Regions from separate parts of the Homo sapiens genome. Here region 1 is linked to region 2. Evidence: fine-mapped expression QTL. A gene starts in region 2. The other region holds a variant in brackets. All regions are shown on one strand. Distances are from middle to middle.

Region 1 (5,378 bases), 53 kb after region 2:
TGATTCTAGTATTTAATCTCTCTTTAGACTTAGTCTGCCCAAGAGGCTTATGACTCGGAGGCTGCAAGACATATGAGTTGTAAGAGGCAGGATCTAGAGGTGTGTGGATCCTAGAAAGTGGCTTGTTTGGGCCCCAAAGCCCACATGCCTGAGTACTGGGATTTCTCCAGATCTTGGGGTGAGCGAACCAGGGAACAGTTCCTCCCATGACTATTTATGTATCCTGTAGAACATGAGCTCCGTGAAAGCAGCAAGAATGGGCTTGCTTTTCTCACCTATGCTGCTTACGACAGGTGCTCAGTAAGTAGTTGCCGAATGAATAAACAGGTGATGTTACCCAGAATTTTAAGTTCAAAGTCCCAGCCAGCAGGTGGAGTGATGAAAGTCATAGCAAATAATAACTGTATTTGCTGATACAGAAGACATCTTGTTATTTCCCCCAAAAATGTATCCAAATATTACCCTGCATCTAATGCATCTGAATTACATCAAATCACTAAGGATAGAAGCAGACGTATCGCTCAGTGTCAAAAAGCAAAATCACTGTCTCTCCTCTACAGTCAGGAACCAGACAGCCCTCTTTCCTTTTCAAAACTTCACCAGAATTCCTTTCAATACACTATTAGGAAAAGTACTAAGTTTTTCTTCCACCACCCCCACCCTCAACAAATGTCCCTATTAAATAGATGCCCAGCGTGGGGCCTTATATTCTGCAAGAAATAAGTATTTTGTTTAACCTCAGAGTTACTGCCTCATGGTCCTAATGGGTCCTCAGAACTCATTTTGCCTCACACTCCTTCCCCAAAAGTGTCATAGATATAACAACTCTGAGTCCCAGAGTGGACACCCGAGGCATTGGTAGTGAGAAGGGGGGTTTTTACAGCAACTTATGTGAACGTATGTGGTGTAACATACTCTCATCTCCTCTCCTAAGGACCCTGGAATGAGGTAGTATTAGTCCCATTTTAAAGATGGAGAGGGTGAGGCTAGTAGACTCGTAACAGGCGCTGAAGCCAGACCCCATGACTCATCTCACAGCCTTTGGATCCCATTTCTCAGATGAGAACATGAGGGCCAAGGCAGGCTTAAGAATAGGAGCATGTCACCTGACCCTCAGGGCTCGTACGCACACCCTGCAGAGCCATCTCTGAAGAGAGGACCTTGCTGTAAATTGGTGGTTCAAAACAAGAAAGGTATTTCCTGCTGGAAAATCTCATCTTCATACCCTCCCTCCCAAGCCTACCTTTAAGCTCCTTGTGAATAAAAAGCACCTTGCCCCCTTCCCCCTTGCCTTTGTTTCCCCAGGACTGGATAGCGACTTCCTTGCCGTGCTAAGTGACTACCCGTCTCCTGACATCAGCCCCCCGATATTCCGCCGAGGGGAGAAACTGCGTGTGATTTCTGAGTGAGTCAGCTCTCCAAAACTTGTGCAATCTTCAAAGCAGGATAAACTTGGTTTGGGAGAAAAGTATTTGATTGTTAGCTAGAGTGGTCTAGTTCCACATGAGTCCTGGTCCTATTATGAGGTGAGAAATTTGACCCATACTGCAACCTTCCTCTTTAATGTGGCCAGTGCTCTAGAACCTTCCATAGCTCCCCACTGCCTGGTAGATCAAATTTAAATTCCTTAACTTGGCTTTTGAGATCCTTTATGATCCAGCCTCTTCTCATATTCTTCTTATCTCCCACCACATGTGCAGTGTTGATGTTATGTAGGAATGAAGACCGGGAAGGCAGCCCCCAGGGTCTGGAAATCCTTCGGATGAGAAAAAACAAAAATTTGCCTTCTCTCCTCTTACCTCTGCAGTCTGATTCAATATGGGCTATAGAACATGACAGAAGTTCTAAGCCCCTTTTATTTAGATCTTCACTGATTCAGATATATGAAACTATCTTTGGCTATACTGCAGAGCATAAATCAACATAGTAAACATTTATTTTTAAAAAGCCTCCAACAGTTGGGAACATTAGCTGCTAATCCCTGAAAAGCAGCTATTTCTAGCACATGGGAGGGTTTACCAGTTGGCTTGCAATGGAGGGCTATCCACTGGACACATATCCTTTAAAAAGAAAATTTTCAGATGACGAAATATGGGTTAACGTGGCCAGTGACAGATCTTAAAAGAGGAATGTTCCAAACTGTCCTGGGTTAAATCTGATTACTCTGTTCATTCATCCTTTGGTTTTGCTATTT[A/C]CCTATCTCTGTGTTCTTCTCTGTTCTTGTTCTTACAGTGAAGGGGGCTGGTGGAAAGCTATTTCTCTTAGCACTGGTCGAGAGAGTTACATCCCTGGAATATGTGTGGCCAGAGTTTACCATGGGTGAGTACATTTCTCAAATGGCAGCAATTAAGCATGATGCGTATGCTGGTGACTCATAAGGTGGAACAAAGATTCCAGCATTCATAGTGGTAAGGAAGGCACTGGGTCAAGAAGAGATAGTCCTGCTCCCAACCCAGTCAATAAGGAAAGGAGCAACCTTGGGCTAACTTATCTCTTCTGCTCTCTGGGACTCAACTTCTCCCTCAGTAAAATGAAGGAAGTTGGACCTTTCAGCTCTAACATGGTGCTCCTGGCACAGAGTGGTAAACAGCTGGGAAATGTTATGGGAGGGCACAGCACAGTGCAGAGACTAGAAGTCAGTGTGTCTAGGTTCAAATCCTGCCTCTGTCACTTACTGGCTGTGTGCCAGTGAACAAGCTTTTTATGCATCAGTTCCCTTTCCTCACCTGTCAAGTAGAGATCATAACATAGAACGACAGGGATAATAATATATGATAATATGATCAAAGTGTAGGGTTGTTAGGAGAATAAGATGTAATGATACATGTGTAGTTCTTGGAGCAATGCCAGGCATTACAGTAAGCACTCGATAAATATTAGCTCTATTCTAATCAAATACCTATCCAGAAACACACAGAATCCTTACTGCCAAAAATGCTTATGTGCCTTCCTTGAAAAATGGGTAAGATAAACAAGAGATATCTTAGAAAACTAGGCTCAACAGATAAGAAAATAAGCACCCTGCTTTCCCCTGTAGTCGTTCCAGTGAGGCCTCTGCAGCCTCCTGGGTGGCTTTGGAGCCCTGAACACCTGGGCACAAATCTTGGCTTCCTTCCTTCCATGTGAGGGTCCTGTAAAAGTCGCTTCACCTCCTGGAGTTACATTATCCTCATCTGTCAAGTGTCGGAAGCTGGAAGTTGGCAAAGAAATGCAAAGCACATTGGAAATGGAAAAGAAAGAAGGAGGCATCCATTGATAAACACTAAGTTACTTCTTCATGTCCAGAGGACTCTACATGCCACATGCTCATCTTGCAAAACAGAGATAACCACCTGAATCCTTTGAAGACTGGAATTCTGCGAGTTTAATTTTAGTATTCATGATCTTAATTGTGAATACCAGATGCCACTTCCATGCTTAGGATGATGAAGCTAAACAAAACTGAAGCAGGAGCTGCCGTGGGAGTCACGTTCTGAAAGAGATGGGAGTCACGTGACTCTCCTACATCAGCTGCTTGCCCTGGAGCCATTCATTCACTAGCAAGCATGCATCAATGCCTTCATGCTGAAGATGTGAGGCTGCAGCTGGCACGAGCTGGGGGTGGTAAGGAACCAGGAGGAGTGACATAATTATGACCCTATGAGGCTACCAATCCAACAGAGGTGATCACATCCCTTAACATATCAAATAGGAAGAGCAGGGCTGAGCACGGTAGCTCACGCCTGTAATCCCAGCACTTTGGAAGTCCGAGGCAGGTAGATGGCTTGAGGTCAAGAGTTCAAGACCAGCCCAGCCAACATGGTGAATCCCCATTTCTACTAAAAACACAAAAAGTTGCCAGACGTGGTGGTGCATGCCTGTAATCCCAGCTACTTGGGAGGCTGAGGCAGGAGAATCACTTGAACCTGGAAGGTGGAGGATGCAGTGAACCAAGGTCACGCCACTGTTCTCTAGTCTGGGTGATAGAGCAGGGATCCATTTCCAAAAAAAAAATTACATAAATAAAAGGAAGAGCAGCAGTGAAGTGAGGTGGTTATGGAATTGGATGTCCCAGAAAAATGCATTCTAATTTTAACTCTATCAACTGCTGACATGGTTTCCTGAGCAAACTACTTAATCACTGGAACCCTCAGTATTCTCATCTGTGGAAGAGAGATGATGCTTCCTGTCTCAGTGGGTTGAGGTGAGGATTAGGTTTCAGGTGCTTAGTACGGTGGGTGGCGCATTCCTGCCTTTCCTGGGGGAGGGCTTGTTCCGGATCCTAATGGCTGTCTTCCTCCTTCCCAGCTGGCTGTTTGAGGGCCTGGGCAGAGACAAGGCCGAGGAGCTGCTGCAGCTGCCAGACACAAAGGTCGGCTCCTTCATGATCAGAGAGAGTGAGACCAAGAAAGGTGAGTGGCCCCCAACTCATCTTTCCCCATCCGGGGCAGACAAGCATGTTTTGCTCCTGGCTGACTCATTACACGGCTTCATTTTCCTTCCTCCTACGTCCATGCAAATTGATCCAATGTAGTTAAGCTCCCTGCAGCCCACACGCTGCTGGGGAGGCCAGTGGGGAAGCAAGGGGACTAGAGACAGGCAGTGGGGAGCCGGCTGGGCACTGCCACGGGCCTGGCCAACATCAGGCCTGATGACTCCTGCTGGAAATTTTTCCAGCAACTGAGAACAAAACTGAACGCAGTGTGTAGGCAGCATGCTGTGCAGATAGAATGTGGCCTTTGGTATGGGCCTGGGCTGTGCTCTCAAGCTCTGTGACTGATTTGTCTGAACTCAGTTTTCTCATCTGTGAAATGGAGAGAACACCTCTCCCTTGTAAGGGTGTGGTGAGATTCAAATGTCATAGTATTTGTGTTGCTCTTGCTGCACAGACAGTCCCGATATCAGTTTCCTCTGTGCTCCGTAACTAAATCAGACAGCTCCGAGAATCACATGTGTCCTCTCACACAGTCACCATCATCACTAGCATTACAATTTCCTTGCATCATATGCATTAAGTACCACAGTAAAAACACAAATAGAGTGAGCTCTTTGTCATGATGCAAAGCAAGGGTCCCAAGTTCCAATTTTAGCCTTACAAATTACTAATTTACTGCTTCTCTCTCTCTAAGCCTCAGCTCCCTGATCTAGACCATGAGATTTACAGTAGGAGAGTACCATGTTTATCCCCAAATACTTAACAGCTAGGGTTTTCCCAGACTGAATAATAATAATAACTTTTTTAAAATTCAGAAGGTATCTTCAAGTTCTTGGCTTGCTTCTTGTACATTCAATATCAAAGAAGAGAAAACACACTATCTGAGAGTACTTCCCATGCACCTAATAAGTGCCAAAGCCACCTGGTGCTAGAGCCCTTCACCAAAATGAGCATCAGCCTTGCT
Region 2 (5,378 bases):
ATTCAGTGGAGACAGGGTGGGTTTGGGAAGCAATGTGACCATGTCCTCACTTCCCCTCTTCCCCCAGCCTATTCCAATCAGCCTTTCCTTCCCGTTACTCCACTGAAATGGCCCTCATCAAGGTCTCCCATGACCTACAAGAGCCCAATCTCTGCCCTCATCTCTCTTGACTCTGTGACATTTGACTTTTGCTTCCTTTTGGAAATGCTTTCTTTTCTTGGCTATTGTGATACCGCATTTTCTTGGTTTTCTTCCAAAGCTGTATCTACAGCCCTGACCTCTCTACTGAATTCCCAACTCATATAGTCAGCTGCCAACGCGAGATATATCCCAAATCTGATCATTTTTTACTGTGACCATGTCTGCAACCCTAATTTAAGTTACTAGCTCAACCCCTGGATTTCCACAATAGAGCCCAATCTGATCTCTACTTCCTGGGTCACACATCTCCTTAGTCAATTTTCCATATAGCTGCCAGAAATGTTCCTTTTTAAAACAGTGGATCAATATAATCACCTTCTATTATTAGCTTGAAACATTCCAGTAACTGCCCACTGCAAGGAGAATAAAGTCACTTTTCTGATGGCCTGAAAGATCTCATAACTGGTCTTCTTCATCCCTCTGACTTCCTCTCCTCCCAGTCCCTCCACTGGCCACTGGATCTCCTAGCACTGACCTCCCTGTGACCCCCAAACAGCCAGGACCACTCCTGCCCCAGGGCCTTTGCACCCACTCTGTACCTCAATCCCCATCGCTGGCTCCCCATTGCTCAGGCCTCAGTCCAGAAGTCACCTCCTCCGAAAAGCCTTCTCTGACTGCCCCTAAAGTAATTGCCCCATTCCATCGCCTCCTCTGCAATGGCCCCACTTCAGTGTTCTTCAGGGCATTTCTAAGATCTGAAATTCTTTATTTACTTACATCATCTGTGTCCTTTCATGAGAACATGAACTCTCCGAGTCAGAAGCTTTATCTGTTTAGGTTACAACTGTGCCCTCTAAAGCCTAGAGAGAGTCCAGCGCACAGAAGCCTCTGAATAATCTATGTTGGAGAGATGCTGCATGGGTTAATGCTTGAATGACTCCTGACTTCACTGCTCCTTATGGTGTTAAGGGACAAGGACTTACTTCTCCATCAAGCACAGCTTGCTCAGGGCCAAGGGCTCACTGCACTTTTAGGAACTCACAAAAGTCTTTTCTTTCTAATTTCTTTTAAAATCAGAAGAAAAAATATAATAATAATGAAAATGTAATAATGAATCCAGCCTGGTTTACATTCATCCTTATAACAATGCAGTCATGAAATACAATATTTTAATATTTTGGGGGGGACAAGTCAGTCCTTCTGATCCTCAGCTTTCTCTGAACCATAATCCCAGCTCACAGGGCCCCTGGGGAGAATTAGACAACGTGACGTGTAAGCGTCAGCTGTGAGGGGTAATGTGGGGCTATAGCTCCAGGGTGGAGGGTTTACAGTGTGCAAGGGCATCCTAGAGCCATGAGACCTACAGGGCTCTCTGGGTGTTGGGAGATACCTCTTTCGCTTCTTATAACACTGCAAGAGACAGACAGGGTGGCTCTCACTGTGTCCATTTGAAGGCTAAAGAAACTGCAGCTCAGACCAGTTCAGCAACTCTCCTACATCGTGTGGCTAAAGCTAAGAATTGTGACCCATTTTTCTGAATCCAGGTCCCCGCGATGCCCTGGGTTCAGACCCTAACACCCTCCCGTCCCTGAGTGCTGGGGATTTAAGGCAGCAGTGCCTCCTTTCAGGAAATCACACACACACTGGAAACTCCTGCATACTCCTCTTACTATAATCTGTCACCAAAGACTGGATATTCCTGTGCTGGGGCTCGTGCCAGCGCCTCGGGCTGCCAGGTGCTGCTTTCCAACTCCCACATGGGCTGCCCTCCCCCTACTGCTACCCACAGGGCCCCCACTCCACCTGCTCCCAGACGAGGCCAACTCCTGGCCAAGCTTAGGGGCACAGCGGAGGCGCTCTGTTTCTGATTTTTCTCGCCTTCCTTGGAGATGCCTGTGCTTGGAAGGGAAGGCAGAACATTGCATCTTGGAACAAATCTGCTTTTGATCATGCAAATGAATGCCTGGATAATGTAGGCAGACTGTCAATTTCACCAGTTAGAAAGAAAGAGAAAAGGGGGAGAAATTCCCCATGACAGCGACTGATGAAGAATTTCAATAGAAAGCTGCTACTTCAGAAAATAAGATCATTTGCTGCGAATGGAGAACATCTCAGGCAGCCCTGATGCTCCACCGGTAGGTTGCTAACTTTGCTGTCATTGGGACCCCCTGGGTGGGCCATAGGTGGCCTGGGGTGGTATGTGGGGGAGGGTCTTCAGAGGGACTTGATGGATCCTGTACCCACCCTCCGTCTTTGGTCTGAAGAAAATGGGTGGGTCTCTGCTGGTGGTGAGTAGCTCCAGGGGGCAGGACTTGGGGTAAGAGGCTCCACTCCTGTCCCTCCGTGACTTCCCTGGGAAGCTGCACTGCATGTGTTTGTGGACTGGGATCCAGCTGATACTTATGCAGCGTTGGCATGAGTAGAGAGCATGCATTTGTGTTTACTACAATTTGGAAAATTGGTCTCAGGTCAGCTGAGGTGGTTCAGAGATTGGACGTTCTTTGTATTCCTGCTTTCTGTGTATAATTATCTGAAGAAGGGATAACAGCTTTGGACACTAATCTTAATATTAAAATTAAAAAATTAAGGGAAAAGAACGAACATTTATTGAAGCCAAACTATTTTCCAGATATTGTTGTGTATTTGAATTTTTGAACATCTTTATGAGGATATTTACTAATCATCTCCCAACTTCACAGATAGGGAAACTGAGGCTCAGACTCTGGGTAACTTGGATGCTCGTGATTGCAATCCAAGGACACCCAGGACACTCTCCCTGCTGTGTTGACACATGACCAAGGGAGCGGGGTCCTGGTCAGTTCCTGGCCATTGTGTCACTCCAGCTGACAGTGCTGCTATGGGGCCCAATGGCACCTGATCTCCACCTCCTGAGGTCTTGGAATAGATGTCCATCTCTCCATATAGTATGTATCAATGGTGTTTCAGTTGTTTGCCTTGTCTGTTATCATCTGACTGCAAGCCCTTCTGAGGGGAGGAATTCAATTTGTATTTTATGCTGAAACACCTGGCCCAGCATGACTAAACAAACAGGTGTTGGTGTTACAAAAACATGCTGGACACCCTGTTTAGGTGGATGTGGCAATTTACTGCAATTGATATGTCCTGTTTCTCAGCCCCAGATGGGGCAGGAGGGGCTGGGTGGGTATCAAAGGACAGAGGATGGAGTAAAAGGCATGGCTGAGATTGAGGCCCTCCAGAACCTGCCATCTTCAGGTCCTCCTTGGCTGATGGTGGTTGGACCCAGGTGCCATGGAGCCTTCTTGGGGCAAACAGAGAAATGCACAAGCCCAACTCTAAATTCAGGTTGGGAGTGGGCTGAGGCAAGGGAGGGCAATACAAGGGCACATTGGGTTGAAGTCCAGAGGAGTTTCCTCACTGTTGGGAGGGTGGGAGCATAGCTCATAACTCAGTTTCCACTTGGTTGTCCACTGTGCCCTCTTGCAGTTCTGTGTGGGGTAGAATCCTGAGGATCTCTCTAGGTGATGCTTGCGTATGGTGGGGGTAAGGTGGTGATAGCGCATCCCTGACCTAGTGTTTATCACAGATAGGGTAATGGGTAGAGCCTGCCACCCGCCACCCTCCCCACTCCTGCCCTGCAATTGGGGTCAGAGACCTGCAGTGGAGACTTGGCTTTCCAAAGGACTAGTTAGCTGACCTAGAGACACCCGGTAAACCTCACTAAGCCTTTCTTTCCCAGAAAAAAAATCGTGTTAAATACTGGTTCATGGTTCCCTACCTCACAGCCATACAGTTGAGATAACGTAAAGTAAGAGCATGAGTTACTTCACTTAGGCTAACCCCTAAGGCTATTGAAATTTTAAAATTATAAATAAATCAATAAATGACTACAGAAAAAAAAGAATGTGGGTAGAATTGGAAAGCCCTTTGCACATAGTAGCCTTTATTCTAGCTGGGTTTGTGTACATTTCAGTACCCAGCATACCGTTGATGGTAGATGGAAGGCTCTCAGAGGAAAGCCTGGCTTTTCCCAGAGTGACGTCATGGGAAGAGGATATTTGGAGGCAGATAGAACTGGGTTTTAATTCTGGTTTCTCTCTGAAAAATAGTAATAATAATCCCCACCTCATAGGGTAATAGTTGTGAGGGTGAATTATTTCATTGAAGACTTCCAGGTTAGGGCCCAGCACATAGTCAGTTCTTCATAATTTCATTCATTCATCCTAGTGAATGTCTATTGTGTGCCTGCTGTGTGCAATTTGTCTAGCAGAACTAGAAACATTTCTAGGCACCAGAGATATAGCAGTTTCAAACATTCTAGTTGGGGAAGAAAGACAACAGACAAATACATAATATGGCAGGAGGTTTGAGTGCTGGGGTAGGGTGTAGGATGTAGGGATAGAGAAGGCTGGGGATATGGCTTCCCTCTGAATCCAAGTGGTCAAGCAAGGTCTTTCTGATAAGCAGACCCTGAAGGGAGTAAGGCAGTGAGTTGTCTGGGAAGAACATTCCAGAAGAAAAAACAGCAAGTACCAGGACCCTGATATGGGATGTGCTCAGCCTATTTGAGAAACTCTAAAGGGATAAACCAGTGAGCCAAGAGGGAACAGCAGGAGTTAAGGTCAGAGAGCTAACAGAGGTCACATCAAATAGGCTCTGGCAGTTCATAGAAGACTGGAATTTTCCTCTGCATGAGAGGAGGCCACTGGAGAGAAGGCTTGGAGCAGAGGAGTAAAATGGTCTGACTTATAAAGGGATTGCTCTGGCTACTGTGCTTCTCATAGATTATAAGAGGCAAGGCAGGTGCAGAGAGAGAGTTGGGGGCTAGCACAAAAATCTCAAATAAAGTGGCTGGATCAGGGTGATAGCAGAAGAGGTAGGGGAGCAGGGTTTGGATTTGGGATACATTTGGAAAATACAGCCAGCTGGATTTTCTGATAGAATGCTGGTAGGGTATGAGAGAGCAGTGTCAGGAATGACTTTTGGTTTTGAGCCTGAGTACAGAAGGATGAGTTGTTTAGTTGCTGAGTTGTTTACTGAGATGGTGAAGACTACAGAAGAACATGCTGGTTGGGGATGGGAGCAGAGGTGGAATCGGCAGTCCACTTTGGGTGTGTTATGGATGAGACACTATGAGACATGTAAGTGAAGATGTCAAGTGGGCCATTGGCTAAACCAGTTCAGAGTTCAAGGGAAAAGTCCAGGAGGAATAAATCTGTGTGCAGACACATGTTTAGGAGATGATTGCATGCAGTGGC

The links.
Region 1: its variant is fine-mapped to the expression of SLA in whole blood (TOPMed, PIP above 0.99). The same link has a PIP of 0.9 or more in CD4 T cells, NK cells, T cells, Th1/17 cells, Th17 cells and Th2 cells.

What each region holds. Positions count from the first base shown.
Region 1 is chr8:133,046,843-133,052,220 of GRCh38, reverse strand. All of the region lies in intron 41 of TG (thyroglobulin), which reads right to left. SLA (Src like adaptor) reads left to right here. Exons shown (of 9, transcript NM_001045556.3): 4 at 1,306-1,405; 5 at 2,233-2,319; 6 at 4,288-4,391. Among named protein-coding and RNA genes, the nearest start is that of MIR7848, 3.0 kb to the right of the region's middle. RefSeq lists an enhancer at 2,010-3,209. The variant A/C (reference allele first, on the strand shown) is at 2,195.
Region 2 is chr8:133,099,451-133,104,828 of GRCh38, reverse strand. SLA (Src like adaptor) reads left to right here and starts at 2,227. Exons shown (of 9, transcript NM_001045556.3): 1 at 2,227-2,276. The region is part of intron 43 of TG (thyroglobulin); the gene reads right to left.